Linked DNA regions of Homo sapiens: all the other regions are linked to region 5. Evidence: fine-mapped expression QTL. A gene starts in region 5. Each other region holds a variant in brackets. All regions are shown on one strand. Distances are between the middles of the regions.

Evidence for each region. PIP is the estimated chance that this variant, and not a neighbour inherited with it, causes the effect.
Region 1: its variant is the best candidate, but not a certain one, in a credible set for the expression of RIC1 in tibial nerve (GTEx, PIP 0.88).
Region 2: its variant is the best candidate, but not a certain one, in a credible set for the expression of RIC1 in whole blood (INTERVAL, PIP 0.69).
Region 3: its variant is the best candidate, but not a certain one, in a credible set for the expression of RIC1 in whole blood (INTERVAL, PIP 0.73).
Region 4: its variant is the best candidate, but not a certain one, in a credible set for the expression of RIC1 in monocytes after R848 (Quach 2016, PIP 0.53).

Annotation. Positions count from the first base shown.
Region 1 is chr9:5,774,431-5,780,623 of GRCh38, reverse strand. It overlaps RIC1 (RIC1 partner of RAB6A GEF complex), which reads right to left. Exons shown (of 26, transcript NM_020829.4): 26 at 4,067-6,193. Among named protein-coding and RNA genes, the nearest start is that of ERMP1, 56 kb to the left of the region's middle. The variant A/G (reference allele first, on the strand shown) is at 3,374.
Region 2 is chr9:5,935,176-5,941,368 of GRCh38, reverse strand. The region is part of intron 5 of BRD10 (bromodomain containing 10); the gene reads left to right. Among named protein-coding and RNA genes, the nearest start is that of MLANA, 47 kb to the right of the region's middle. The variant T/A (reference allele first, on the strand shown) is at 3,428.
Region 3 is chr9:5,866,081-5,872,273 of GRCh38, reverse strand. It overlaps a transcript of ERMP1 not described here. Among named protein-coding and RNA genes, the nearest start is that of MLANA, 22 kb to the left of the region's middle. The variant C/T (reference allele first, on the strand shown) is at 3,187.
Region 4 is chr9:5,745,658-5,751,850 of GRCh38, reverse strand. It overlaps RIC1 (RIC1 partner of RAB6A GEF complex), which reads right to left. Exons shown (of 26, transcript NM_020829.4): 11 at 5,768-5,920; 12 at 4,346-4,549. Among named protein-coding and RNA genes, the nearest start is that of ERMP1, 84 kb to the left of the region's middle. The variant T/C (reference allele first, on the strand shown) is at 3,633.
Region 5 is chr9:5,625,716-5,631,908 of GRCh38, reverse strand. RIC1 (RIC1 partner of RAB6A GEF complex) reads right to left here and starts at 2,802. Exons shown (of 26, transcript NM_020829.4): 1 at 2,456-2,802. The coding sequence starts at 2,599. INCR1 (interferon stimulated noncoding RNA 1) reads left to right here and starts at 2,182. Exons shown (of 3, transcript XR_007061406.1): 1 at 2,182-2,342. RefSeq lists enhancers at 1,982-2,482, 4,393-4,612 and a silencer at 2,503-3,042.

The sequences.
Region 1 (6,193 bases), 150 kb before region 5:
TTTGTCAAACTCATTCTCTGTCCAGTTCTGTTCCCTTGCTGGCAAGGAGTTGTGATCCTTTGGAGGAGAAGAGGTGATCTGCTTTTTGGAATTTTCAGCCTTTTTTTGCTGTTTTTTCCTCATCTTCGTGGATTTATCTACCTTTGAAGTTGGTGACCTTCAGCTGGGTTCTCTTGAGTGGACGTCCTTTTTGTTGATGTTGATAGTATTCCTTTCTGTTTGGTGGTTTTCCTTCTTAACATTCAGGCCCTCTGCTGCAGGTTGGCTGGAGTTGACTTGAGGTCCAGTCCAGACCCTGTTTGCCTGGGTATCACTGGTGAAGGCTGCAGAACAGCAAAGATTGCTGCCTGTTCCTTCCTCTGGAAGCTTCGTCCTACAGGGGTACCCGCCAGATGCCAGCTAGAGCTCTCCTGTATGAGGTGTCTGTTGGCACCTACTGGGAGGACCCACTTGAGGAGTTAATCTGTCCTTTATCAGAGCTCCAATGCTGTGCTGGGAGATCTGCTGCTCTCTTCAGAGCTGCCAGGCAGGGACGTTTAAGTAAGTCTGCTGAAGCTGCGCCCACAACTGCCCTTTGTCCAAAGTGCTCTGTCCCAGGGAGGTGGGGGTTTTATCTGTTAGTCCCTGACTGGGGCTGCTGCCTTTTTTTCAGAGTTGCCCTGCCCAGAGAGGAGGGAATCTAGAGAGGCAGTCTGGCTGCAGTTGCCTTGCTGAACTGCAGTGGGCTCCGCCCATTTTGAACTTCCCAGTGGCTTTGTTTACACTGTGAGGGTAAAACTGCCTACTCAAGCCTCAGCAATGGTGGACGCCCCTCCCCCCATGTTGGAGCATCCCAGGTCAAGCTCAGACTGCTGTGCCAGCAGCAAGAATTTCAAGCCAGTGGATCTTAGCTTGCTGGGCTCTGTGGGGGTGGGACCCACCGAACCAGACCACTTGGCTCCCTGGCTTCAGCCCCCTTTCCAGGGGAGTGAATGGTTCTGACTGGTGTTTCAGGTGCCACTGGGGTATGAAAAAAAAAAACTGCGGCTAGCTTTGTGTCTGCCCAAAACAGCCATCCAGTTTTGTACTGGAAACCCAGGGCCCTGGTGGCGTGGGCACTGGAGGGAATCTCCTGGTCTGCGGGTTGCAAAGACTGTGGGAAAAGCACAGTATCTGGGCTGGATTGCAAGATACAGTCCCTAACAGTCCCTAATGGCTTCCCTTGGCTGGGAGAAGGAGTTCCCCGACCCCTTGCGCTTCCCAGGTGAGGCAACGAACTACCCTGGCTTTGGCTTACCCTCACAGGGCTGCACCCACTGTCCAACCAGTCCCAGTGAGATGAACCAGGTACCTCAGCTGGAAATGCAGAAATCACCCGCCTTCTGTGTCGATCTCGCTGGGAGCTGCAGACCAGAGCTGTTCCTATTCAGCCATCTTGCCAGCAATCCCAGTTATGGCTCTTAATGTCTGTTTTTAGTTTAAATACGTAGGGATTTTTGGAGTGTATCAGTGTATTTTTTGACACTTCTACTTCCATATTTGACTTGTAAAAACATAACATGTTGGTAATAATTTTTTTTTTCCTCCAGTTTGGCTCTACAGCATGACCAAATGGAATTTATGCCAGGAATGCAAGGTTGGTTTAACAGAAAGTTGGCCAGGTGCAGTGGCACATGCTTAATTTCAGCACTTTGGGAGGCCAAGGTGGGTGGATTGCTTAAGCCCAGGAGTTTGAGACTGGCCTGGACAACATGGCAAAACCCTGACTCTACTAAAAACACAACATTTAGCAGGGCATGGTGGTGTGTGCCTGTGGGCCCAGCTACTATAGAAACTGAGGTAGGAGGATGGCTTGAGCTCAGGAGGTTGAGGCTGCAGCAAGCCATGACTGCGCCACTTCCTTCCAGCATGGGTGACAGAGCAAAACTCTGTCTTAAAACAAAAACATTTGAAAATCAGTGTAATGTACCATATTAATAGAATAAAGGATAAAAACCACATGACTACTTCAGTAGATGCAATGTATGTTTGTTGAGTGTTTTTATCATGGAAGGGATTTGGATTTTTGTAAAAGACAAACTATACAGAAGGCAACATCCTCAACCAGATAAAGCTTATCAATAAAAAACCCACAGCTAGCATCATAATTAGTGATGAGAGAAAGCTTCTCCCTAAGATCAGAAGACAAGGATATCCACTATTGCCACCTAATAAGCATTGTACTAGTGGCTCTAGCCAGGACCGTTTGGCAGGAGAAAGAAAGAAAAGGCATCCAGATTGAAAAGGAAGAGTTCAAACTATCTCTGGTTGCAAACAACATGACCTTCAATGTAGAAAATCCTAAGGAATCCACAAAAAAGAAAAAGTTTGATGTTGCATGATGCAATGTCAATATACAGAAGCAATTGTATTTATATACACAATCCAAAAACAGGAAATTCCATTTTTTTTACAGTAGCAATACTTAGAAATAAATCTAACAAAAGTATGAGACTTAGCAAAAATTATAATCCACTGTTAAAAGACATTAAAAACCCAATAAATGGAAAGACATCTCATGTTCATGGACTGGAAGGCTTAATATGGCAATATTCTCCACATTTGCTTTATGTCATGAATACAACGCTTATGAAAATCCCAACTGCCTTTATTTTAGTATAGAAATTGACAAGCTGATCCTGCAATTCATATGGAAATACAAGGGACCTAGAATAGCCAAAACAACCTAGAAAAAACAAACTTAGGACTCTCGCTTTCAAAATTTCCTACAAAGCAACAGAAATCAAGGCAATGTGGTATTGGCATAAGAAGATATTATAGATCATTAGAATACAATTAAGAATCTATAAATAAACCCATACCTCTATAGTTGATTTTTGACAATGGGAAAAAAATCCTTTCCATAAATGGTGCTCTGACAATTGAATAGCCACGTTAGAAGAACGAAGTCAGATCTCTCTTTCATATCATATATGAAAATTAACTCAAAATGGATCAAAGACCTAAATGTAGGAGATATAACTATAAAATTCTTAAAACTTAGTCGTAAATATTCATAACCCTGGATTAGGCACAAGCAACCAAAGAAAAAATAAGTTGGACTTAAAAACAGTGTTTCAAAGGACATTATGGAGAAAGTGAAATGATTCAGAGTCCGTGTGATTGTAATCACATGCTGACAACACTCAGTCTAAGTCAGACTTCTGTTGTATTCTCACCACTCAATTTGTTTTTTTTTTTTAGCAGTATTTAATGGGTACATTTTAGAGTCTTCCATTTTGTGTGGAATTAGATCCTCCCCTTCAAATGCTGTAATTAACATTACTTAAAAAAAAAAACTTGAATATTGAAACCTAAAAAAGTGAAAAGCCCACAGAATGAAGAAATAGTTGCA[A/G]TTTATATGTACATAAAAGAGTAGTATCCAGAATATATAAAGAACTCCAGCAAGTCAACAATGAAACGACCTAATTAAACAGACATTTTTCTTCAAAAATAGACAAATGGCTAATAATCCTACGAGAAGATTTACATTAACCATTAGGTAAATGAAAATCTAAACTATGATGAGACACTACTTCATATACAACTTGGATGGCTACAGCCAAAATAACAACATGCTTTGGTGCCAAGAAGTGAGATAGAAAAGTTCACATACTATATGTTTCCATTTATATGAAATGTCCAGAATAGGCAAATCCATGGAGACTGAAATTAGGAAAATGGGAAAAAGTCAAAGTACTTTTTAATCCCGCTTATTAGAAATGACGCCTAGGTTCCTCTATACTTACATGTAAAATTTTGTTTGCTTGGTAGGTATCTTAAGGTATACATAATTTTCTGTCATTCCTTCATTATATTTTGAACATTTTCCATGTCATCGACATGGGCTGTTTCCTCCAGTATTTTACTGTCAGGCATCTAGGATGTTGCGAACTCTTGATGCTGTCATTCTAAATCTACATATAAATAAATATTTTAAATAAATCTGTCTGAATTTCATTTCATAAGGAAAATTCTAAGAAGCAGAATTATATAATGAAAAGATGATTTTCGTGGCTGTTAACCTGAGATGATGAATAAACCAAAGTTTGTGTAATGGTTTTATTGCCCTTTACCAAGGGGAGAAAAATACACATTACAGAAATAGCAGCAACTTTAATTACAAGCAAAGGTTGATTTTATTCCCACACCCCCAATGACTTGTTTTGGTTTCAGCAAATAATTTATTAATAAATGCATCTAGTAAACCTCAAATAGTTATACTGAATATTTAAATTCATTGGCTAAAATTATGGCTTAAACAGTTGATATGTGAACCAAACACCACAATAAAAATGGGTTTTTAAAAATTAAGGTATATAACAAATAAATTACCAAATTTTCTGTAAACCTGCCAAACTTCTTGCCTGGGGGCCTCCTATCTCTATTAGTTGTAAAAGAATATTGTATAAAAGAAATGATTCATTCACGGCCTAACCCACAGGAATACAGTTAACTTATACTGGTGCCCTGCTTTCAAGAATGTTTGAGATGAACTCAGCAGCACAGTGTTTTATTTCAGATACTTGAAAAGATCACAGCTCTTTATAATGGTAAATCATTTTTATTGACTGAATATTCACACCAAACACAAAAGCAATGCTGGTTCTTCTCCTTAATGGACTAGGATAGGAGAAGAGAGTTCAGTTTAGTTTCTTGCTGGGCTGCATGTACTCACATGCAAAACATTATCTTTAAGATTCAGGGAAAGGTGGTTTGAAACAAAGACTTAAATAAAAATAGCACCAGAAGGACCAGGTACCAATAATCACATACTCCACCCATTCGGGAGTTTCATTTTGTGAAATATTATTGCACTTGTAATGTAAAAAGTAAATGATAGTAAATTACCCAACTCAGTAATTTTAAATACTTCGATGTATTCTGAACTAAGCAGTTTCAAAATGGTTTTGAGTTTCTCTTCAAAGGAAACCTGGCTAAGACAACTAAATCTAGCCATTTACTTTAAAAAGCAAGGAGAGAGGACCAAGTTTTGTTTCTAAACTACAACTGCACTATGAGAAAAGAGGCTATTTTAGATAGTGGTACGAATTTGGTCCACATCAAATACATCGTTATTATAAAAATAAACAAGTTTGTTTTTTGTAAAAAATAACATTGCATTCCTTGTTCAAATTGCACAGTACAAACAAGCTGTCTTAATACTGTTATAAGGTAATTAGAATTACATACAGTGGATGGGTGTTTAAAGCAATTAAGGAGTATGCAGTTGTTTTCATAATGTATGAAAACAAATTTAAGTCATTTCTAGAAGTACATAAAATACTTTAAGTTTACAATGAAGAATGCATTCTTTACACACTAATTTTTAGTAGCCGTGGTAATACAGGATTCAGCAGTCTATTTACATAGAAGTCCATCTTTATTCAATTTACAAAAGCAATAAATAAGAGACTATGTTAATTTGCACAAAACTTGCTGCATTTCATGATCAGTGTGACCATTTCTGTTACTTCATGACCAAGCCAATAAACCTGTCTTCCTCAGTTTTGCAGAGGAGCAAGCCCTGTCTTTGTATGTGTAGACATGCAGAATCCAGCATTAAAACCTTGCAAATTATAATACAAGCCCTAAAATATGAACAGTGCCTTTGAATATATTTACACAAGAGTATTCACAAAAAGATACTGTTCTTTAATACAAAATAGTTTAGTGGTATCTAACAGCAAAATTGAGAAGAACCCCCTCAGACCTCTGCCCACATTGGTCTAATGGGAATCAAGCTTGCTAAAACAAGCACATTAACTCACAGGTAAATAGCTTCCATCAATTCTGGACTGGGATTTGACTGGCTAGTAAAGCCAAGGAGAATGTTTCCATCACACTGGCACATATTGTGCCCCAGGGTAGCAATCTATTCAGGAGGACTGATTAAAGAGTCCAGCTGTATCCAAGGGAGCAAACAGGTAGCTCAAGTACCTGACAGACTATAGCAAGCACCTTAGCATTTATTTTTTAAAAAGCAATCTGGACATAATGCAGAACCGGGAAATGTGAGAAGATGTAAGTAGTGAAAAAGTAAGCTCACCTGGGGCAAAACAATTCCTGTGGTTTAAGAGCTACCAACCTTTGAGTAAAACCAAAATATTCTCATGTACATCTGTACAATATTTACTTTTCACTGCAGCTTAAAATTTTTTTATGAAAGATGCTT
Region 2 (6,193 bases), 310 kb before region 5:
AAAGAAGAAATCAGAACATTTTGTTTTTATTTTTGTGGTTTTAGTTAGCAGATAAAATTTGCATTTTGCTTATTTAAAAAATACCTGTTTTAATGTAGAAAATTTATTAGTTTTCCTGAAAGATAGAGCTAAGATATTGATAACTTTACCTGATCTTATTGTACTTGAAATTTGTTAGATAGTATTGCTTTCTAAATAATAAAAATTGGAAGATTTCGCCAAACTTATATTTCTAAGTTTTTCATATAATCCCCTTTTCCCTCATATTTGTTTAATGCCCTTTATGTTCTGTATCATAGTTCTGATTTTCAAAGAAGTTTCAGTCTTTTTCAATTAAGGAAAGACCCTTGTAGAGATTGGGTATGAGGAAAAGTGAAAATTTTGCAATAACTATGTTATTTATAAGGAAAAAAACCTCTTCTGGGTTATGTGATGATAAATGAAAGTCTTATAAATATTGATAATTAAATTTTAAATGTAAGACCACATCTTTTCTAATACATCTTTTATCAGATAAGCCCCTCAACATTGAGTAAGATCTAAGATTTTATTTATTTCTAAATTTTATAATCAATATGTAAGGAAAGCTATACATATTGAGCACAACCGCCTGTTTGCTTTGATCCTGTGATGATATTTGGAATTTAACTTTTCTCCCCATTTGTCCTCCCTACCCCCAAAAGTAATGTACACAATGGTGTATTTAGCAGACCACCCCTCGTAGTGGAAATTTGGAAAAAATCCATATGTCCAGCAGTAGCGAGGTGACTAACTAAACAATATTAACACACTGTTATATAGCTAGCAAAATTGGTAGATCATTTTTACAATACGGAAATATTTGTGAAATGTTAAGTTTTAAGAACATACACAATAGGCCAGGCGCGGTGGCTCACGCCTGTAATCCCAGCACTTTGGGAGGCCAAGGTGGGCGGATCACAAGGTTGGGAGTTCGAGACCAGCCTGGCTAACATGGTGAAACCCTGTCTCTACAAAAAATACAAAAATTAGCCAGGCTGTAGTGGCGCGTGCCTGTAATCCCAGCTACTCGGGAGGCTGAGGCAGGAGAATTGCTTGAACTAGGGAGGCAGAGGCTGCAGTGAGCCAAGATCGCACCACTGTGCTCAAGATTGTACCAGTGCACTCCAGCCTGGGCGACAGAGCAAGACTATCTCAAAACAAAAAGACATACAAAATAATATGTACATAATGATTACAGTATGTAAAAAGATATGTTAAAAAGAAAGAAATTTCAAGTAATGGATAAAATTAATCTTTATTATGTTCTTAAAATAAGGTAAATTCAGAATACAATAATAATACTTCTCTTACCTAACCAAAGGGTGTACATTAGCTAGACTGAATATTAGAGAAGTCAGAAGCTTAGATCAGAGATGCTAACTCCCCCAGTTTTTTGGTCACAGAGTTCTGTATAAGCCAGTGGTTATCAATCAGGAATGATTTTGCTCCCCTTCCCTAGGACACATTGATTGTCATAGTTGAAGAAGTGGCACTGGCATTTAATGGATTGAAACCAATGTTGCTGCTGAACATCCTACACTGTAATGATCCTACAGTGCACAGACATTTCTCCACAACAAAGAACTGTCTTGTCCCAAATGTCAGTTGTGCTGAGGTTGTAAAACCCTGGTAAAAGCCTGTATTTGCTAAGGGCCTTATTCTTTCATTCTGTCCACTGCTGCCAACTTACTTGGAGAGAAAACAAGTTGATGTTTTGAAAGTTAGGTAGAAATCACTGAAATCATAATACCAGATCCCATCATAGAGAGAATTCTATTACATAATATACTTCTAATTAAGACTTGTACTTGATGGAACTTGTGAATGTCTGTGTTAACCTTTACCTTTCGTGATTCCATCGATGATTAAGAAAGATTCTTGACCTTAGCTTCCCTTAGTATAGGAAATAAGTTACAAACAATATGGTTATATATGTATTTTCTTTATTCAGTTTTAGAAATATGATGTGATATGTTCTTAACTGAAGATATTGTAAGGAATGATAACATAAGTAAATGGAAAAATATTGACAAGTAATGTTATAAAATAATGTTATAAAACTACATATAATGTTATAAAACCACTTATTACACATGTAATAGTAGTGTTTTAATTATGTTATAAAACTACGTGTAATAAGTGGTTTTATAACATTAATAACGGCTTTCACTATATGAATACTGATATGAGGCAAAGAAATTATTGTGCATTAATCTTATTTTCTAACACCTGTAAAAAATAAATTTTATTCTATTCTATTGAAGGATAATGGAATTTTCCCTCTTCTCTCCATTTCATGTCCCATTTTCTCAGTAAGGTATCAAGTCAATATTTTTAATATTATTTTATAGCCAGCTGTTTAGAATACAAAATCTGTTGTACTACAGTATAAGGAGATTTAAGTATATTCAGAGTTCTCAGTAAGCCCTAATTACTTTACTTCATGGCTTTGGTTGTAATAATCTCTAAATTATTCTTAAAATTAGTTTTATTTAGGGTTTTAACAGTCACATCATGTGTACGATATATTTTTTATTCTAGATCTTCTGGTAAACTCGTTAATGGTTAACAAAACTGAAAACTATCTCAGCTGTGGGAGAAAATCAATCTACCTTTAAATAGTTACACTGTCTTTTAAAAATTAAAATGACCTTTTGGAAATGTTGCACAACAGATAAAATGTGCTTTTTACCTGCTTAGTTACAGATTCTAGCCTTATTTATTAGGTAACTATTTTCTGAATGTCTTCTATGTGCTGTGTATAGTACCAGGAACTTGGTAGGAATCCAGAGATTAAAACTAAGTTCCTATAGTCAAGGAATTCACTTACAGAGTAAGATTTTATCCTCAACCTGTGGGTTAAAATATTTATTTATTTTAATTTATTTTTATTATTTTTAAGATAGGGGCTCCTTGCTCTGTCACCCAGGCTGGAGTGCAATGGCACGATCATAGCTAGCTCACTGCAGCCTTGACCTTCTGGGCTTAAGTGATTCTCCCACCTCAGCCTTGAGAGAAGCTGGGACTAAAGGCTCAAACCACCACACCTGGCTAATTTTTGTATCTTTTGGAAGAGATAAGGTCTTGCTGTGTTACCCAGGCTGGTCTCAAACTCCTGGGCTCAATTGATCCTCCTGCCTTAGCCTCCCAAAGTGCTAAAATTTTTATTTTTAATTAGGGTTGGTTGGGCTAGCCCCTGTCCTTTTATAAAATATTTAATCTTTTATTTTCAAGCTGTTTATTCATAAGTCACCAGACACCATAGACATTTGCTCACTTCCCTTAATTACATGTTTATATTAATATGTTGTTTGGGAGTAGGGTAGAAGGGCAAATAACATGAATTTTATGGAGAATCAAATGTTAACTGACATGTTCAGAATAATAATGAAAAAGGGGACCTAGA[T/A]GATAGGAAATGTGAACCAGATATATATGACTGGTAAGGCAAACAAAGCTTCAGTTGACTGTAGTCACTGAATTATTTGAGAATGCATTATCTTCATTCATATTCTACTCTGCACAACTAAGAACTAGATTTTAACTTTGGTTTACAGTGCTCACTGTTTCTACTTACTGCAGTTTGGCTTGATGGTTTGAATCCCATCAGGGAAAGTTGCATGAAAACAATGTTTGAAAACCTCTCTCTTCCAAAGAAAGATTGTACATTGGTTTTACATCAGGCAGGGAGTTAATGCTGTATATTCCATTTATCCCAGCACAGAGTTGAGTTTCAGAGGAGTTGACCTAAGTACAGATCCTTCTGTAGTCAAGAGCTTTCTAGTGTTTCTTTTTCTTTTTATTTTCTTTTTTTTGTAAACGGAGTCTTGTTCATTTGCCTAGGCTGGAGTGCAGTGGCATGATCTCGGCTCACTGCAACCTCTGCCTCCCAGGTTCAAGCGATTCTCCTGCCTCAGCCTCCCTAGTAGCTGGGATTACAGGCATGTGCCACCACGCCCAGCTAATTTTTGTACTTTTAGTAGAGATGGTTTCACCATATTGGCCAGGCTGGTCTCGAACCCCTGACCTCAGGTGATCCACCCGCCTCGGCCTCCCAGAGTGCTGGGATTACAGGCTAGTGTGTCTTTTATAATTTGCTTTAAACCCTTTTTTTTTTTTTTTGAGGCAGAGTCTTGCTCTATCGCCCAGGCTAGAGTGTAGTGGCATGATCTCGGCTCACTGCAACCTGCGCCTCCGGGTTGAAGTGATTCTCCTGCCTCAGCCTCCTGAGCAGTTGGAACTACAGGCACGTGCCACCACACCCAGCATATTTTTGTATTTTTAATAGAGACAGGGGTTCACTATATTTGCCAGGCTGGTGTCGAACTCCTGACCTTGTGATCCACCCACCTCAGCCTCCCAAAGTGCTGGGATTACAGGCATGATTGCCACCGCACCTGGCCTAAACCTTTTTCAATCACGTATCACATACCCTTATTCAAATATAAGTAATTTAAATGTCAAACATTTTTCAAAGTCCCAATAAATTTGTATTGTCTTCTGTTTAACAGTTTGATTACTACCTTCCATGGTTCTGGAAAATTGAATTTAAATCTATGAAGGTTAAGGTAAAAAAATGAGCTTTACATCATTCTTAGTTTTTGTATTATAGAAGATATAAAAATCTTTGGAAAGACTTTAATTCAGTGCCTTTTGTGAGTTGGGAAATTATGTCAAAACTCAGTGGACTGAATATTAATAAAACTTTCTTAGCATCTTACTAGACTCTGTAGAAAAAGAAAAAAATTATACATCATATATTGAAGGAAAATTAACCCAGAATCCAGCAGAGAGCACAAAGGAGCCTAAATAGAGAGCACAAAGTACACATGTGGATGTTCCACTACTTTAAAATAGAAAGACCTTATGGGAAACCAGTTCTTTAAGATGTAATTCTAATAAGTAGTAGCAGCTGCTTTTAATTAGGACAGGAGATGTTTAAGGCAGATTTACTGACAGCATGAAACACTGATAAATTATTCATTTATTTGTTTTTGAGACAGGGTCTCACTCTGTCACCCAGGCAAGAGTGCAGTAGTGTGATTTTGGCTCACTGCAAACTCCACCTCCAGGCTCAAGCAGTCCTCCCACCTCAGCCTCCCCAGTAGCTGGGACTACAGGTGCACACTACCATGGCCGGCTAATCTTTGGATATTTTGTAGAGACAGGGTTTTGCCATGTTTCCCAGACTAGTCTCGAACTCTTTGGCTTAAGTGATTTACCTTCCTCTGCCTCCCAAAATGCTGCGACTATAAGCATAAGCCCCCATGCCCGGCTAATGAATAATTTTTTTAAAAAGCAATTGAAAAAAATAAGTAAAAGCAGGTCTTAGGAGTTTAAAACTAACAAAATAACTCGTTCATAATGATGACCCAAGTCATCAAGTTAGATTATATTCATTATATTGTCAGAAAATCTGAAAGACTTATACTTTAGGAACATTTTAATCAGTTTTTAAATAACCTTTTGTATCTAAGGAAGAAACCTCAGTTACATGAGAAATGTGCTTATGTAGTGGAACACTTAAAGTGGGCCTTTTCTGTCAGAGTTAGGCGTTGTGAGAGAATATGAAAAAATAAAAGTAAGTAGGATACTGTCCCTGCTTTTCAAATATTTCCCGTCTTAATTTCACTTACTTGGAACTTTTTATGCCCCTCTTATGCCAAATAAACATGCCATTACTTTGTGGTTTAGATTGTGCTGTGAATTGTTTGAGAACCCATCTTTCTGATAGCATATATGGATCTGTTAAAATATCATCAGTTTGTTGGCTTAATATCAATTTATTGAAAACAGTCAAATTCAGATACTCAACCAGTGGTTAATTTCTAGTCCACGGTTCATTCTTTGTAAATGAAAATGGTAGCACATTGTCTCTTAAATGTATATTGTTAGATTTTCTTCCCCGGTGATAGTGAACTACCTTACCAGGAATGTGACCTGTCACCCAGTTTTTCCCCCGCTACAAAGCTGGAAGACAGAGAAACTTGAAATGTTATCATTATTGTTATTGTTGTAGTTTGCCTTCATGCTTTCTATTTAAATGCTAATTTAGAAATATAATGGAAATGTTGGATATACTATTCAATGTATTCAGTGTGGGATGCCTTTAAAGTACAAACGCGTTCCTTTTCTCCTAGTCTTAAGTAAAAATTGGTAAGAGTATCAAGAGAAA
Region 3 (6,193 bases), 240 kb before region 5:
CGGGACCAGAATGCTCTGGTATATTTCAAAATGGTTCCTTTTCCCTTTCTCTTCCAGGAACATAAAGGGATTTTTCCCTCAGTCTTCACTCTGAGAACCTGGTAGAGCTCCAGAAGGTAAACTCACAAAAGTGTTTTACCTATAACTGGGTCCATGGGGCTCTTAACTCTCAGACTTGTCATTGCCAAGCCTCCAGCCATTCGTTTGTTAATCATAGAGCAGGTTTTTCCTGCAGTGACACTGGCTCTCAGAGGTTTCTGCTTGTGAGTTTCTGCTCCAGCAAGTTTGGATTCTCATTATCTGCCTGTCTGTCTCTAATTTGGGGGGCAGCAGTTTGTCCTGTGACCTCACTTCCTTGACAGATCTAGGACGAGTTATTTTTTCAGTTTGTTTAGCTTTTTCCTTGTTGCCAGGATGAAGTGATGACTTCCATGCCCTTTACATGCCAGACTGAAAACTGGAAGCCTCTTCTGCTCTTTGGAAGGATAATTTCTCGGTACAGGATCCTAGGCTGATGGTTCTTATTTTTTAACACTGTAAAAATTTCACCTTCTTCTTCTTCTTTTTTTGAGACGGAGTCTCGCTGTTGTCACCTAGGTTGGAGTGCAGTGGCACAATTCTCCTGCCTCAGCCTCTTGAGTAGCTGGGACTACAGGCACCCGGCACCACGCCCAGCTAATTTTTGTACTTTTAGTAGAGATGAGATTTTGCCATGTTGGCCAGGCTGGTCTCGAACACCTGACCTCAGGTGATCCGCCTGCCTTGGCCTCCCAAAGTGCTGGGATTACAGGCGTGAGCCACTACACCCAGCCTATTCTTTTTTTTTTTTTGAGACACAGTCTTGCTCTATTGCCCAGGCTGGAGCGCAATGGCATGATCTTGGGCTCACTGCAACCTCTGCCTCCCAAGTTCAAGCAATTCTCCTGCCTCAGCCTCCCAAGTAGCTGGGATTATAGGCACCCACCATCATGCCCGGCTGATTTTTGTATTTTTAGTAGAGATGGGGTTTCACCTTGTTGACCGGCTTGTCTCAAACTCCTGACCTCAGATGGTCCACTCGCCTCAGCCTCCCAAAGTGCTGGGATTACAGGTGTGAGCCACCACGCCTGGCCTCACCTTATTCTTGATTCTGATTATTCTTTATGTGTAACCATGGATAAGCCTTTTCTTCTCCCTGGGTCTCAATTCCTTTATTTGTAAGGTGGGTAGATCTGGTGGAAAGGGTTGAAATCTATGGTCTCCAAGGGTCCGTCCAGCTCTAATATTCTTTGATTCAATCATGCAACTATACAACAACCACACAGGGTTTGACGTTTCAGCTAATACCAGTCTGTGGCTACTGGTGTGAGCCTGTCACATGCCCTCCTGGCCCACTGCCAATCACAGCATGTTGTTGCTTAGAGAGGTCATGGTAGGCAGTCCTTGCAATGAAGTGTTCATCCATGTTTGGCCAGTCTTCAAAGAAATACCAACCCCTGAGAAAGCAGAAAGCCTACAACCTGAACGCTAATGCCTGTGCTCAAGAAGGAAACTTCAGTGGCAACAAAAAGCACAGCAAAACAGGGTCCCAGTGAAGCTCTTCTGAATTCAACAACGTTTGAAAGTACTCCATTCCCCTAGCAACTTTTTTTACTTAAAAAAAAGCAGGAGCTGTTTTTTAAAATGATATAAGAACATTATATCGAAGAAAGCAATACGATATTTTGTCAAATAGCAGTGGTATGATTGTGACTGTCATGTCTGATCAACTGATTCTAAGGAGAACTCTATCCTGTGCAGAATGCTGGCATGCTACTTAAAGCTGATTGAGAGGATGACATGCCCAGGACTGGCAAGAGCCCCCTGGTTTGGACTTCTCGCTTGATCCCAAAATATTCCATTTTTAACAGAGCAATTTGGCAATGTGTCTCAAAAGCCCTAAACATGTTCTTCTGTTCTGGATAGTGATGAAGAGTTGGACAGATATTTGGCTAGGACTCCCAGCCTTCTTCTACCACAGGTACAGGAGAAAGATGTGCACTAGGGACACTCTAGGCATCAGCACAGCATTTGTTATTGACTCGTTTTGGCCCCACATCTCTGTGTGAAAGCTTCAGGTTGTTGAGCTGGGCTGCACCTTATGGAAGCCCACAGTGCTAATTGTATACCTCTGAGCAACCCTCTACTGGCTGCCTTCACCCTTGTCCCCAAGGTCCATACTTGAATCTCTTTGTCCTAGAGGACTCACCAACCTGAAAGCAGGAAGAAACGGAGAGACAATCTAAAAGAATGTTCCTCCCTCAGGCCTCGAGCAAAACCAGAACAAAGGCTCCCACGCCCAGACTTTTCCACAGCATGGGCAGGTAGCGCCCCTAGTGGGAGGCAGCAGCCCCAAGTCCATCTTGCCACCTCATCTTCTTAGAAAACAACATCCAAAAGGCCATGAGCCTTCCCTTTCTCCAGGAACTAGTATCTCCTTTTTCTGAGAGCACTGTCCTGCCCCAACTCCTTGAGGTCAAAGTGGAAGTTTCATATTCTTTGAGAACCTGCCCTCCCATGGGGTTATTTGGTTGGTCCAGGGCCAGCTGTATCCTGCCCTTCCCATGGTTTGGTCAAATGCCCTTCTTTTGATTACAGAAGATATTTCAGGATTCTTCCAATTGACTCTCCCTTTTGCTACAGTCATTTGAGACAGGTTTCTAAGATGGCAGGTCAGGAGGCTAGAGAACAGAATCCCCAAAAGTGGGAAGCTAGAGAGAGAGGCCCCCATGTGGACACTAGCATTTCCAACCTACCATCACTGACACCCTCACCTTTTACCACCATGTCCTGAGAATGATTTTGCATCTGTTCCATTAACTTCACTCCTTCTCCTCCTCATTCCCAAGGGGCCCTGAAAGGGGAGCTTTAAGTCCTTCCTAAGGGCAGAAGCAAAACCTCAGTAGCCAGTCCATGTCAGGATTTCAACCTCAGGACATAATCAGAGGTGTGCACACATATTGAAGTACAAGTGATCTAGGGCTGCATTCCTGTAGCTGTAAAAACAATTGAAAATAACCTAATAATATTTCAAAGAATTATGGTCCATCCATCCAACAGAATGCTTTGCAGCTGTTAAAAATATTTTTAAGGAATATTTAATGACATGGAAAAATGCTTATAATATACCAAAAGCAGGCCAGGAACAGTGGCTCACCCTTGTAATTC[C/T]AGCACTTTGGGAGGCCAAGGCAGGAGGAGTGCTTGCGCCCAGGAGTTCAAGATCAGCCTGGGTAAGATAGTGAGATCCTAGCTCTACAAAAAATTTCAAAAATTAGCTAAGCATGATGGCACACACCTGTTATCTCTGCTACTCAGGAGGCTGAGGTGGGAGGATTGCTGAAGCCCAGGAGGTCAAGGCAGTGAATCATGATCGTACCGCTGCACTCCAGGCTTGCTGTCAGAGTGAGACCCTGTCTCAAGAATAAATAAATAATAAATAAAAGAAATAATATACCAAATTCAGAATATACAATTTAATGTACTTTATAACCTAAATTGTGTCAAGTTATATATTATATACACATAAACAGCCAAAAAGAACCACATAAAAATGATAATTCTACTTTCTTCATTACGTTTTCTATGTTTTCTAATTGTTTATGATTAGCATGGTTTACTGCGGTATTTATTTGGTATTATGTTTTGGCATAATATTTTATATTAAGTAATGAATGATATTGAAAAGATCAGAACCTTATTAGAGCATGTCTTCCTATGGAAAAATCAGATTTCCTTCTCTGCTGTTTGCGCTTAGCCTTTACCAGAGGGTCATGTGACCAGCAGTAACTGTGAGGCCCGGTTTTCTGCCACGATATTCCCTCCAGAGTACGTGCTCTCGGGTTGTCTGAATCCCTGGAATGCTGGGCCAGTTGCCTCAGCGGGGGCTGCCGTTCTAACCCCCAGGGCAGGGTTGTTTCTTTAGCTGGCTGGTGGCTTTTGGTACCAAACAAGTAACTTTCCTTTCCCGTGAACTTGTCTGCAGTCCCAAACGACTTAGGGTAACTCTGCTGACCCTGTTACCTGCTTTATTCCAGCTTTTGTTCCAGCTAAGGTGGGGAGCCTATAGATTCCTGGGGTCCCACAGAGGTGACATAGCAATGAGAGAGCTGGTGATGTCTCATATTCATGACACAACTTTGCCTGGATTCACAAGTGTGGCTACATAGGGAGCACAGAGACCAAGGGTTGAGGAGCCAAGGTTCTTGGCCTCCCTCCTGCCATCTGACTATCTGAGCTTGAACAAGCCTTTCTGAAGCTCTCTGCCACCTGTCTACAAGTGTAAACTGTGATCCAGGGAAACAATATCTCAGATACCTTTTCTGACCTAAATTGTCTCTCCTATTCATTCCATAGTGTGTGCCTAATAATAAGAGCAAACCCCTGCCACATGCCAGATGCAGTTCTAAACACTTCATACAAATGGACTCCTTTAATCTTCAAAACAAGACTGAGAGGTTGGTACTGTTATCATCATCATCATCATCATCATCATTCCTTTTTCATCAGATGAGGAAACTTAGGCAAAGGGGGACTCAGTAACACGGCCAGGTGCCACAGCCGGGATGTGGAGAGACAGGGATTCCAACCCAGCTGAACTGGCTCTGAAATCTAGACCATGAACCACTCTGCTCCACTGCCTCTCAGTCATGTGAATTTCAGCTCACCCTGTCTTTATTTCAAACTTGGCCAGAGGTGGTCAGTCAGCCACAGTGACACGCTGGCAAAACTGCAAAGTGAGTGATGCCCACCTCCCCTATCCTCTAGCTGCTCAAGGTCGGCCTTTGGGGTCACTGCTGTATAATTCTACTTCTTCCCAACCATGCAAGGATGGCAGAGGCCTCCCCCTGCCTCCTAGACCTACTAAGACAAGGCAATGGCTGTGGGCTTCCCCACCCTCTTGGCCCCATCTTCTGAAGAAGAAATAAGAAAGTACTGTTTTCCTGGTTTTTCAGAAAATAAGAAATATAATACTCATTTAATGAGCATACTCTGCACATGTTATACATACAAATTAACTCATTTGGTTTTCAAACAAGACCCCCCCACTCCCCCGTTTTTCCAAGACAGAGTCTTGCTCTGTTGCCCAGGCTGGAGCGTAGTGGTGTAATCATGGCCTACTGCAGCCTTGACCTCCTCGGCTCAAGTGATCCTCCTGTGTCAGCCTGCCAAGTAGCCAGGACTATAGGTGTGCGCCAGCATGCTCAGGTAATTTTTAAATTTTCTTGTAGAGATGGGGTCTCACCATGTTGCTCAAACTCCTGGGTTCAAGCAATCCTTCTGCCTCAGCCTCCCAAAGTGCTGGGATTATAGGCATGAGCCACTGTGCCTGGCCTCAAACAACCCATTCTTATTACCAGTCCCATTTTACAGATGAGGCCAATGAGGCTCAGGGAGCTTGTGTAACTTGCCTGAGGGCTCACGAATAGAAAAGGAACAGGAAGCACAGCACTAATATACATACCTTGCTCTTTGCCCATCCCCACCCTCTCTTCCCACAGCTGGGTCATCATCTGACCCTCTCATCGCCACTCAGATTTTTGAAAAAACTTTTATAATACTATTAATTCAAATCAAGTACTTTGGGTTTGAAGACCTTCTGTTCAAATTTGATTACAGGTTTCCTTAGTTTCCCATGCCTCCAGTTCTATGAAATTACAAGTTCATCTGTTCTTGACCTAAATCAGTCTTTTGGAGTGGTTGAGAGGGAGGTGAGATAATCTGTGTACAAGTGATTTCAAAAGCATCAAGTGAGCTACCAATTCTGGGCTGTTTGTCATAGTCTGCATATTAATAGCATTCTCGCACAGCCCCCAGGCTGTGTGGAGGAGCAGCTCTGTTTGTATATATCCAAACAGTAGGATCCAACAATCCTCTGCCTACTTATCCTCTCCCCACTATTGTTGGATCCTATGGTTTGGGTATGTTGTTTGGATAATATTGGTTCTGTTCCCCGAAACAGAAGAAATATTATCCAAACAATATATCCTGTTCGATCTAGAAATCAAAGAGGTAACTAGTAATAGTTCTACAAACAATATAGTCCCAACACCAATGGAAACTGGTGTAAGAGAGGGGCTCATCTGCAATTTACCCCCCAAAATGGAAGTGTATTATGTGTAATAGCACACCTACGTGTTTAAAATCTGCTTTTATTCATTTATATTCTACCGTACAA
Region 4 (6,193 bases), 120 kb before region 5:
ACAGAAAATTAAGTAAAAGCAATATGCTCTAAACATCTGTATTAACCTTGATAAAATTTGATAAAACTGTTTGTTATACTTCACTTATTATCAAGTGCTTTACTTACTAATTATTTGTTATACTTATTAAGTTGACTTAAGTCAACTTAAAATCCAACTAAATCAATAGCTTAATAAATTAATAAAATTCACTATGGGCCAGGCACCGTGGCTCATGCCTGTAATCCCAGCACTTTGGGAGGCTGAGGCAGGCAGATTGCCTGAGGTCAGGAGTTTGAGACCAGCCCGGCCAGCATGGTGAAACCCGTCTCTACTAAAAATACAAAAATTAGCCAGGCGTGATGGCAGGTGCCGGCAATCCCAGCTACTCGGGAAGCTGACGCAGGAGAATCACCTGAACCCTGGAGGCGGAGGTTGCAGTGAGCCGAGATTGCACCACTGCACTCCAGCCTGGGCAACAGAGTGAGACTCTGTCTCCCTGCCCCCCAGACCCCCAAAAAGATCACTATGATGGGTAAAATTAGTTCAGAATAATGGTACACTTAAGGTAATGATTGGGTGGTGAAATAAAACTTGAAAGCATTTTCAACTTTTTTCAGCAGTCACTCACAGCAGGAGGATGTACCTGAGTATAACTGTGTCAATCATCCATTGCACTAAAAGGAATCCTTACCTCCCTCAAACCTTGGTGTTTCATGAGTACTTATGAAACGTGTGGGTGGGTAATGGAGGAGCTGGGATCTTACTGCAAAAGTGGATTCTAACACAAAGAGTTTCTAATAATGGGAACCAAAGTTAAATCTTATCAAATGATCACACTATGATCAATATCTATAAAACAATTTATTCTTTATTCTACAAAAATCTATGAAGTGCCACAAATGATGTATTTTAAAAACTTAAGGTGTTAAGTTTAGAATGAAGCTTTATTTTTCATGCAGTTTGTGTCTAAAGATACTATGTATTTTCTCCAGTAGGTCAACTTTATTGATCTATGTGTCATCTGAACTCTGAGCTCTACCTCTAATACTTGATAAAAGGGAATGGCAGAAGTAAGGAAGAGGCAGCTGATCAGTGACAAAAAAAACAGGTCATGAAAGCACACTCAGGGCACTGAAGTCATGCCACATCACTGGAAAACTGAGTGCTAAGGTACAGAAACTCTACCCTTATCTTAGAATGTTTCAGTTTCTCTTAAAGAAACTGAATCCGCCCTCATTTGTTATTATGATTTTTAAATTTTAAAGTAACTCTGCTAAAACTCTGTCTCCTGCCTAGATTAGTTTTGTCTATAACTAGTGAGACTGTGGGAGCCATCCTCCTAGCAGATTTGTTCTGTGCCAAATACCTGGTACACTTGATACATACTGTAGGAAGACAGTAAATAATTTATGAATGAAAGAGCCTTTAAATACTCTCTGTTGAAATCCCTAACATAGTGCCTGATACCCTGTAGGTGCTTATCTTCCACATTTTGTGAAGCTTATTCTTTCTAAATAGCCAAGCTAACCATCAAACCAACACCCTCAGAACAATGGATAATAGATTTATGTACCTTTCAGAAGTAAATGCTTACATCATACAAAATACTGAGCATTAAAATAAATGGCAGTCTTAGAAGGAACATGGCCTAAAACTAGAAACTTTGTGTTCTGTAAAATTTCAATAGTTTGTGCCCCATATGTCAACAAATGACTTCAAAAGTTTTAAAACTTATAGGTAAGAAAAAACTTTTTAAAAAGCACCTTGGCTGGTGCTTGCTGGTGCTTGCTTTGGCTGGGTGCGGTGGCTCACGCCTGTAATCCCAGTACTTTGGGAGGCTGAGGCAGGTGGATCACAAGGTCAGGAGTTTGAGACCAGCCTGGCCAACATGGTGAAACCCCGTCTCTACTAAAAATACAAAAATTAGCCGGGCATGGTGGCAGGTGCCTGTAATCCCAGCTACTTGGGAGGCTGAGACAGCAGAATCGCTTGAACCCTGGAGGTGGAGGTTGCAGTGAGCTGAGATCACGCCACTGCACTCCAGCCTGGGCAACAAAGAACAAAATTCAATCTCAAAAAAAAAAAAAAAAAAAAAAAAAAAAAAGCACCGCCTTTACTGCCAGTTACCAATCCTGCTTCTGACAAGTATGTATTTGTTTTGTTTTAGTTAAAGAAAAATCATAAGTAACATAGAATCTTCCAATCTGGAAGCTAAGGAGTATAAGGTAGCAGGTTTAAGCAAACAAACAAAAAGCTAGTACTCTAAATGAGAAACAGAACAAGCAGCAGAATTAGTTGGAGTTCATCTAAGCTATACAAGAAGCATACATACAACGAATAAATCACGCAAACAAAATCAACTTTGACAGAGGATGTGGTCACTTATCTTAGAAAAAAGGATACTATTGTGGGGCAAATTAAACCAGGCAACTATGTTTCTTCAGGGAGTCATCATAAATGGCTAAAAAGCCTAGAACGTAAAAGTTTAGCATTATATAGACACTGTATACTGCCCTATACACCGCCACCATAACTGCACTGAATCATGTAGCTGGAGTGCCAGCGAAATACAGGGCAACTCCAAGTACAAACTGCCAAATAGGCGAATTCTAAGTTTTAGCTCAAGGTCAGTGGTGTATTATGTGATTTAATGCTCAGTACCTCGGTTTTAAAATACATTAGATTTTTACTTTAACGTAGAGTGATGATAAAGATAAGTCTGCCACTACTCTGCTGGGTGAACTGGACAAGTCATATAACTTCTCTGATCCTCAGTTTCCTCATGTATCAAATCCAGTTGGACTTTATGATCTCTTAGGTCCTTCCAGCTTGAAAAATTCTATGAGCCCATTTTCATTGTTTCAGCAGTACAAAACAATCAATGTGGCATTATTTATGTTATTTTTAAGGAAACTGATAAACTAGGTAAACTCAAGTTTTAAAAGTTCATCTGTCTAAATATCTTTAGCTATCTAAAGAACAGAATAACAGTGGAATCTTGCTAGTACCCAAAGTCCTAAAATCAGTGTTAAAATGTTTCTCTTATATGGGGTACTTCATAGATGCTTAAGAATCACAGAATCACTGAGTTTTTGAGCTGGAAGGAAATTCAATTTTTGTTATTGCCTGATCGATTTTTTAGTTCCAGACCTACCTTCTTTGATCCTCTGCTCTACTTGGCTCTCTGGTAACACAGACCTGGCTAGGCAGAACTGGCATTGATGCTAGGTCAGTGTAGAATGAATAGTTCAAAGTATGGGGAAATGAAAATAGCAGAGAAATGGCTATAGGAGAGAAGGGAGCAGTGGAAAATTTTAGTCAAGGAAGTAGCTAGTGCAGTTTTATTTAAAAATTGTTACTAATTATAAAATGGTATGTACATTGTTTGATTCTATGAATTTATTAATGTAAGTTAAGTTCATTTTCTTTTAGTGTATACCAGATGTCAATGTAGGAGATAATCCTTCAACCTTTCACATGACCATTTTTTTGTCTCTCATTATCTTCACTCAAAGTCAACTGAAAATAACATGGGAGCTGAAGTAGGCTAGTAGGGTAAACATATAGAGAGTCAAAGTAAGGCAAAGAATTATGGAAACAGAAACTGACTAAAAGAAACTAAGAGTGGGCTTTGATGTACCTAAAATATT[T/C]TGCTATCAAAAAGGGAAAGAAAACAGTCGGAAGACTGAAATTATGTATGCAAGTTTCTTTTAAGAAACTTCAACTTACTGGTTTCCCCAAAATAATTTTACTTGGTATCAAAATTGAGAATTAATTTCCATGTTAAATGTCAGTTTATCAGAATTACTGTGAGACACTGTTAATTTAAAAGTGATATCAGAATGAATAAATAATTTGGAATAAGATTAGCTAATAAAAGTATTAACAATAAAGCTCTCTACTGATCACAAGTCTGCAATTTGGGTCCAAAGTCACATGATTAACCTCAACGTGGCCCCTTAAGACTGTAAGGTCAGCTGTACAGAGTACTAGCTGATGTTGCCACTTTCCATGAGATTATTACACTTTGTTTTGCCTGTGCAAATCCGTAGAGCTAAATTTATACAAAAAAAGAGGCTGAAAGTAAAATAAATAGTTCTCAATGAGAAGGCAAAACATAAACTTCTAGTTCTTGACATTATTAATAGACTTGAAACAGGTGGGGATACACTCTACGCCAAGTGGAAAGAAAGGAGGGAGAAGACTAGAGGACAAGAACACAGAAAAGCAGAAGAGGGACATGACAAAATGGTTAAAAGGATTCTCAGTTGCCTGAAGTTAACAGATGAAATATTTAATAATCTGTTCCAGGTGATATCCTATCAAAGAATAAGTCTCTAGTAATCAGTAACTAAAGATTTACCTGTACAACATGCCAATGCCGATGTCCAAGTAAAGTGCTTAATCCCTGAGACTCTAAACCTCCATCTGCAAATGGGCTCTTTTCTCGACTGGGCTTATGCTCAGAGTGTGTTGAAGAACTCCTGGGATTCTGGGTTTGTGAAGCCTCTCCACAGTTCAAGTACAAGCGATCCTCACCCTGAAGCAACACCTGCTCTTGGTTACTCTAAATGAGGGAAAGAGGAACAAAAGGGCAAAGGAGGAAAACAAATAAAAACAACTCAATATTACGCAGGCAAAAATAACACATCGATTTAGTTTTATTATAGGAAATGTACATGTATCTCGATGTTGATTTTCTTCACAGAGGACAAAGACTACACAATAATCTCATGCACTGTTATAATTAGAAAGAATAGTGCTCTTAGTGACTATGAGATTTCAGCTAGAAAGCCAGTGTTCTCAAAGGTGAGTAGACTCATTAACTATTGAAATCAGACAAAGTAGCACCCTACCCTTGTCATTTTTCCATTTTAGTCCAAATGCTGGCTTGACATAAAACTCAAGGGTGCTTTTAAATTATTATTTGGGATGGGGAAGGGGAGGGAGAAATGCTCTCTTCTTTTCTGGGGATCCTTAGTCTTCAAGTGGAATAATGGATCTGAAATTCAGGCTATTTTCACATTTTTTATGGATGTTCGTAAATTTTAATTAGAAATTTGTTGTACCAAATATCCATTAAAAAGCCATTGATGGTAGGTATTAAGATACACATTTCTAACATGTAACATATACCATTACTGTATATTAGCGATATATAATAATATTAGTATACACTATTTCAGATAGAAATACAAGAGGCAGTGTTTGGGGCGGTGTTTCTAAAAGCAAGTCCTCAGACATACTTTCTTTAAGCTATTTCTTAAAAATTCACAGTTAAATAAGCATGGGGAACACTGTTTTTAATATACCACCTCCTGGATTTTCATGATGCACAATGGCATATTTAAGCCTCTGGAGCCCTACAATCAATCTCTACAATTTTGTTTTACCTTTATTTGACACTTATATGGAAACAAAACTTTTAAAAAATCCTGTGGAACTGCTACTAATATCTCTCATAAGTAGTGCCTGGAGGAACACACTTTGGGAAATGCTATTCAGATAAAGACTAAATTACTCAAATTATTTAAATAAATATATAAACATTGCTTTCCGTCAAATTGCTTATGACCCTTTTAAAAAAATAAGACCAAAGAAACACAACCCGTTGAGAAATAAAATTTTGGTATAAATTTAATATAAATTAAAAAGAAACACAAGAATCATAGAAAAGAAGATAATATGCCAATTTTAGAAGTATACGCCATACATATGTCATAAAGAAGGGTCTGAGCTTCTAACACAAAAGACACTAAAAAATCAGAGCTTTAAATATACTTACCATACAAGGGTTTACAGTGAGTACACTCTTAATAAACTGAAATAACAGGATGCTGGGCTGTTTAACTACACTCCTGAGGTCAGACTCAATTTCAGTGTTTTGAGAACCAAATCCGCTGATTACCCATAGGTGATAGCCTTCTGCACCCCAGCTCTTAGAGAGAAGAGGAGGGAGAAAAAAAGTCAGAGCAATAAAAGGCTTTTGTATCCCTTTCTAGCTTCAATTATTCAAATTCTGAAATAGCCAATGATAGCATTATTAATGATTTGTGAAGGTTGGAGAAACCGTGATAACACAGACAAGAATCACACCTTCAGTTACCTCTTAACTAACTCCAGAGGAAATCACCATCACTGCTCTCTATCTGCAAAAGTGAAAACATTACCTACCATTCTTAATGCCAATTTCAGGGTCTTAATCCTAAAA
Region 5 (6,193 bases):
TTTTAAATGAAGTTTGTTAACCTAATTAACTTACATACTTTCAGGAAGTTTACAAATTAGAAAATCAAAATGAAAACTTTCATACAGAGTAAGAAAGGGCATATCCCAGGAAGAGAAGATTGGAAGCTGGAGTCTAGCATATGTATCCCACTCACCTAGGCATGTAATCATACACCTTATAATCACTTGGTTCAATATTTGATTTTTTTTTTTTTTTTTTTTTGAGACAGAGTCTTGCTCTGTCGCCAGGCTGGAGTGCAGTGGTGGGATCTTGGCTCACTGCAACCTCTGCCTCTTGGGTTCAAGCGATTCTCCTGCCTCAGCCTCCCGAGTAGCTGGGGCTATAGGCGTGCACCACCACGCCCAGCTATTTTTTTGTATTTTTAGTAGAGACGGGATTTCACCATGTTGGCCAGGATGGTCTCGATCTCTTGACCTCGTGAATATCTGATTTTTTTCAGTGACAACAAAGCTGGTGCCCAGAGACCAAGGTTAACCACTCATACTACAGTACTATACAGCCTCCTCTAAGGTATTCCTGCATTTCATTTCACTCCAGACCTCTAAACCCATGGGTTCCCTACAGCCTAACTTTTGCACAACAGAACTTAATAGTAGGGGTCCCTGGACTTCTGTGGAAAAAGGAAGTTGCATGTGAGGTGGGAATTTGAAAGAAGAGTATGAATAGTTTAAATTCCAGAACTGCCTTGGATTTCTAGATGTCGTATGTAACTCCAAAACCAAACAATAGACATGCTTAAGAATATTCACAATGTCCCTAAATTAAAGCATATGTTTATGCTTCTCTTATGGGGGAATAAAGTGGTTTACAGGCTTCTGGTCAATTCATAGGTCATATTGTTTACTTTTATTTAAAATTAAGTTAGGTCTGCCTTTTTAAAGGTAAGAAAAGTTAAATTTTAGACGAAAGTCTAAATTTGTTACATTCAAAAGGAATTATGTATTAAATTCAAAAGACAATTTAAATTCAAGTTCTATTTTTTTCTGCATGTGCTTTAAAGTTGAGTTATATACACCTAAACAAATTAAAAATTATTCAACTGGCATATACATTGTAAACGAATATCTCATTTAGGAACCAGATGATACTTTATATATATTTACACATATGTTTATATATATACACACACACATACATACATATATATTCAAAATACAATCAGGCACTAGACAAAATAGTCATATTGTTGGTATTACGATTTTATAAGTTTGTTTTGTTCTGATTTGCATTTGAAAATTAGATCAGCCAAAACTTGATGGCAAATAGTCTGATTTACAGCCCAACTATGACAGTCAAAGGAGACACCAGAATTACCCGTCACTAAATCCCATCACCAGTATTACCAGGGAAGTGGGTGAGGACTGTCAAGGGCATTACAGGTAATGGAACAGCAACACACAAAGATTTGGGGATTTTAACAAACTAAAACCAGTATTTCACGAACACCTAATAAGGACAAGATCACAACCTATCCCCACATGGTCAAATTAACTTGGAAAGGAGAAAAACTTCACTCTGACATCGATTGGTACTGCCTTCTTTGGGGAGGAAAAAAAGCATTTTTATACTCTGAACTCTGTCGTTCTCATAGACAAAGTTATAGCAGTGTTTGCAGAGAGTAGGGAGTATCCCATCCACCACTTATTTCTTTCTCATATCTACTCAGTAATTCAATACAAGAAAGAAAAAGATAACCAGGACTTAAAGCAAAAACAGAATTCAGTTCCATGCTCCTCCCAAGCCTTATTATTTCCAGGTGTTATAACTGGGAGTTCCGCGGACAGATTTGAGTTCTACTTCCGCTCCTTTAACCCCCTATTCCGAAGAGTCCAAGAGCAGCAGCAAAGAAAAAGACCAACTCGAAAGTGGGGAAGGGATGTTGGGGTTAAAGAGGGGAGTTAAATAACCAGACCTTTAGTGAAGAATAAAGAATTCAGGCTGTAGTTTGTAGAAATAAGTTATTACAGGCCTGTAAAGTCTGGCGCTGGGTAAAGCCCAAGAGGCTTTCCCTAACTCCAAAACGGCGACCTTTAAAGTAAGGGAGGGTTGGGGCACCACAGCGGCCGGATTTCTAATTGTGGAAAGTTTAAACAAATTTGTCCCTCGGGGAATGGGGGAAGGGAGAGAAGAACAAGTCTGGGCTCGGCCGGGGAGCGTGCGGAGTCTGCACGCCGCGGCCGTCGGTCCAACGCGGGGAGGCTCAGGGATTTTCGGCAGCAGCGACTTCATCCACCCCGGACCGCCGGCTGGAGGACGTGCCTGCAGCCGGCGGGTACCTGCGGCCAATTCGGTGGAACGAGGACGCGGACTGCGAAGGCAGGTGGGTCTGGCACGAAGGGGCAGGAGTCCTAGGCTCTGGGTGGAAGTTGGGGGTGGGACGGCGCCGGGAGGCCGGGGAGGCAGCGGCGAAAGGCGGCGGGCGGCTCTACTTACTCGGCTGTACCAGATGCTGAGGCGGGCCGCGGCCAGCACGGCGAAGAAAGCCCTCTGCGGGTCGGACTGAACGTGGAAAGGCGCCTCGGCCGGGCTCCCCAGAGGGCACAGCAGCCTCTTGGGCCAGCCGCTCAGAAAATACATGGTCCGTGCGGAGCCCCCGGCGCCCCCAGTTGCGTCCGTCACACTCAGCGGCCCCGGGCTGGTCGCCCACCTCCCACACCGCCACCGGCCGAGTCGGCGGCGGCGGCGGCGGCAGCTCGGGGCATCTGCCCGCTGGCCTGGCCGGGCCGGGCCGACGCAAGGCTGCGCGACGAAGGCACCCCCAAGCTGACGGGGCCGAGTGTGGGGGAGGGAAGGGGAGGGAGAGTAGGGACACAGAGAGGGCGGGAGGAGCGCGGAGGCCCGCCCCGACCCCGCCCCTTCCTCAGGCCGCGCGGGCGTCACCACGCCGCGCCGCGTGGGTCGGGCCGGGGAGGGCCCGCGCGCGCGCTCTGGAGACTCCTGCGGTCTCCCTAGCTGTTTCTTGAAGCTCTGCATAAGCCTCGCCCGCGGCCGCCGGGTTGCGTCCGCACTTCTGCGCGCTGGCCCCTCCCTTGCTCCTCTCCCTAGCAGTCTCCAGGGTTTTACCGGGAGGACCTAGGCAACGGCCTGAGACTCCGAGGCAAGTGGGGCGAGTCTAGGGATAACGCAGCAGCAAGGCTACTGGGCCGGTGGAACACGCCCTGGCCTGGCCAAATTGGACCTCCCTTCCGGATTGGCGGGGTCTCGGTGGGGGCGGGCCGGTTGCCGGGGGGAGCTGGAGTCACGTGACGGCCGGCGCGGTTTCCCACTTTGGGCTGCCGGCCGCTGTGGCTGTGGTGGGCGGTAGGGGCTTTTACCGTGTGAGCTCCTTTAATGCCGGGGTCTGCAGTGAGAGCTGGTGATGAAGCTCCTGCCGGTGTGGAGCTTACATCCCTAAGGGAGCGTTTATTTAATCAGTAAATAAACCACTCACCATGAAAGTATTGAGTTCTGTCTCCTGCCTTTCAGGAGTTCTAAATCTATGTCTTTGAAATCCATTTCCATTCGTCTCAGCCTTACCAGCCATAACTTTAGATGAGAGGAGGCTATCTCTTTCGTGCTGCAAAAGGCTTGGACTTAGTTTTAGAACTGGAAGGGACTGGTGATAGCGTAGGTCCATATTTAGCTTTTGGACCCCAGGTATCACCTTAGCTGTAACTTTCAACGGATTGACCCAGTGGTAACGTCTGAATAGAAGGAGGGTTGAGGGGATATGGTGTGGAATGGGGGAAGGAGGAGTCTGAAATAGAAGAAAGATTTGCTTCTCATTGTCTACCTTTTTTAGTACAGTTTGAATTTTTCCATATGTTTGTATTACTTTTTCAATTAAAAAGCCAGGTTTAAAAAATGACCCCACATTAAAAAGTAGCAACGTAGGCGGGGTGCTGGGGCTCACGCCTGTAATCCCAGCATTTTGGGAGGCCGAGGCGGGCAGATCACTTTAGGTAAGCAGTTCGAGACCAGCCTGGCCAACATCGTGAAACCCCCGTCTTACTGAAAATACAAAAATTAGCTGGGCGTGGTGGCAGGTGCCTGTAATCCCAGTTCCTCAGGAGGCTAAGGCAGGAGAATCGCTTGAACCTGGGAGGCGGAAGTTGCAGCAAACCAAGATCCCTCCACTGCACTCCAGCCTGGGCAACAGAGTGAGACTGTCTCAAAAAAAAAAAAAAAAGTAGCAACATAAACAGAAAAAAGGAAACAAAGAAACTTAATTCATATTAGATATAGCATTGTAGCTGGTATTCATAACCAAATATGTAACTTTCTGTAATTTTTCTAAACATTCACTGCATTCCCTGGAAGGTGATGATAGAATCCTGTATTCCTCAAATGGAGGTTGAAACTGCCTCACCACTCACCAGCCTGTTGCGATCAGATTGTCTCCTTGGCGTCTACCCTCCCCCAGTCCAACACAGCAGCCTGGAACATAGTAAGCATAGTAAGCTGGCAGTATTTGTCAGACAAACCGTGGAGGAAACCCTGATCCAGCTGAGCTACACCATTAGACAAAGAGGCCCAGAGAGGTTTCTTAACTTGCCAATTTCAAATTGTAGAATAACAAAGTTGCATCATACTTTCATCTTAGATTCAGTTATGCACTTGGCAGAAAGAGGAAATGAAAATGTTCTAGTGCAGCAATTTTGCTGGCAGTGTTACTGAATGTTTGTCCCAGCTGTCTCTCAGAGAGTCTTTGTTCTCATGTGTCTCAAGTTTGTCATACTGTGCTCATGGGCAATTTAAGGAACTTCTAAGCAATTTTTATTGCACTCAATTTTAACCTTACTTGCTGACTTTAGAAGCTTATTCCTCTGCCACACTCCTGTGTAGCACTTAAGATTCACAAAATAATTCCAAATGCTTGTCTTGATTTAATTCATAGTAAACATTCAAGGTGAGTGACATTGGTGTGATGTTGTTATTCTCACTTTCTCAAGTGAGGAAACAGGACAGGTGTGGTAGATGTGCCTGAATTCACATGGCCTGAAAAGAACTGATGTTCTTTCTACAGATCCAGTGTGATTTCTTTCTTTTTTTTTTTTTTTGAGGTGGAGTTTCGCTCTTGTTGCCCAGGCTGGCGTGCAATGGTGCCATCTCAGCTCACTGCAGCCTCCACCTCCTGGGTTCAAGCAATTCTCCTGCCTCAGCCTCTGGAGTAGTTGGGATTACAGGCATGCACCAACATGCCTGGCTAATTTTGTATTTTTAGTAGAGACGAGGTTTCTCCATGTTGGTCAGGCTGATCTGGAACTCCCGACCTCAGGTGATCCGCTCACCTCGGCCTCCCAAAGTGCTGGGATTACAGGCGTGAGCCACCGCACCCAGCCTCCTGTGTGATTTTTTTAAAAATTTAAGGTTTGGCTGGGCGCGGTGGCTCATGCCTGTAATCCCAAAACTTTGGGAAGCCAAGGCAGGCGGATCATGAGGTCGGGAGTTTGAGACCAGCCTGGCCAATATGGTGAAACCCTGTCTTTCTGCTAAAAAAAAAAAAATACAAAAATTAGCCAGGCATGGTGATATGCACCTGTCATCCCAGCTACTCTGGAGGATAAGGCAGGAGAATTGCTTGAACCTGGGAGGCAGAGGTTGCGGTGAGCCGAGATCGCTCCACTGCACTCCAGGCTGGGTAACAGAGTGAGACTTTGTCTCAAAAAAAAAAAAAAAAATTAAGGCTTATGGCATCCCTGCATCAAGTAAGTCTATTGTTGCTGTTTTTCCAACAGCATATGCTCTTTAGGCTGAACTAAATTGTGGTAATTGCTCTGGACAGTGAGAGGGAGTGGGGGAAACCTCTAGGTCTTTCTCCCTGGCGGGGAGAAAAGGAAATATCTGACTCTCCAAAACCCTATACTTGAGAGTTCCCCTATTGTGACAAAAATGTTATTGGCTGGATTTTTCAACATCATTTCTTTTTCTTTCTTTCTTTTTTTTTTTTTTTTTGAGACAGAGCATTGCTTTGTCACCCAGGCTGGAGTGCAGTGGTGCAATCTTGGCTCACTGCAACCTCCGCCTCCCGGGTTCAAGTGATTCTTGTGCCTCAGCCTCCTGAGTAGCTGGGACTACAGGCATGCACCACCACGCCTGTCTAGTTTTTGTATTTTTAGTAGAGATGGGGTTTCATCATGTGCCAGGCTAGTCTCCAACTCCTAGCCTCAAATGATCCACCAGCCTCGGCCT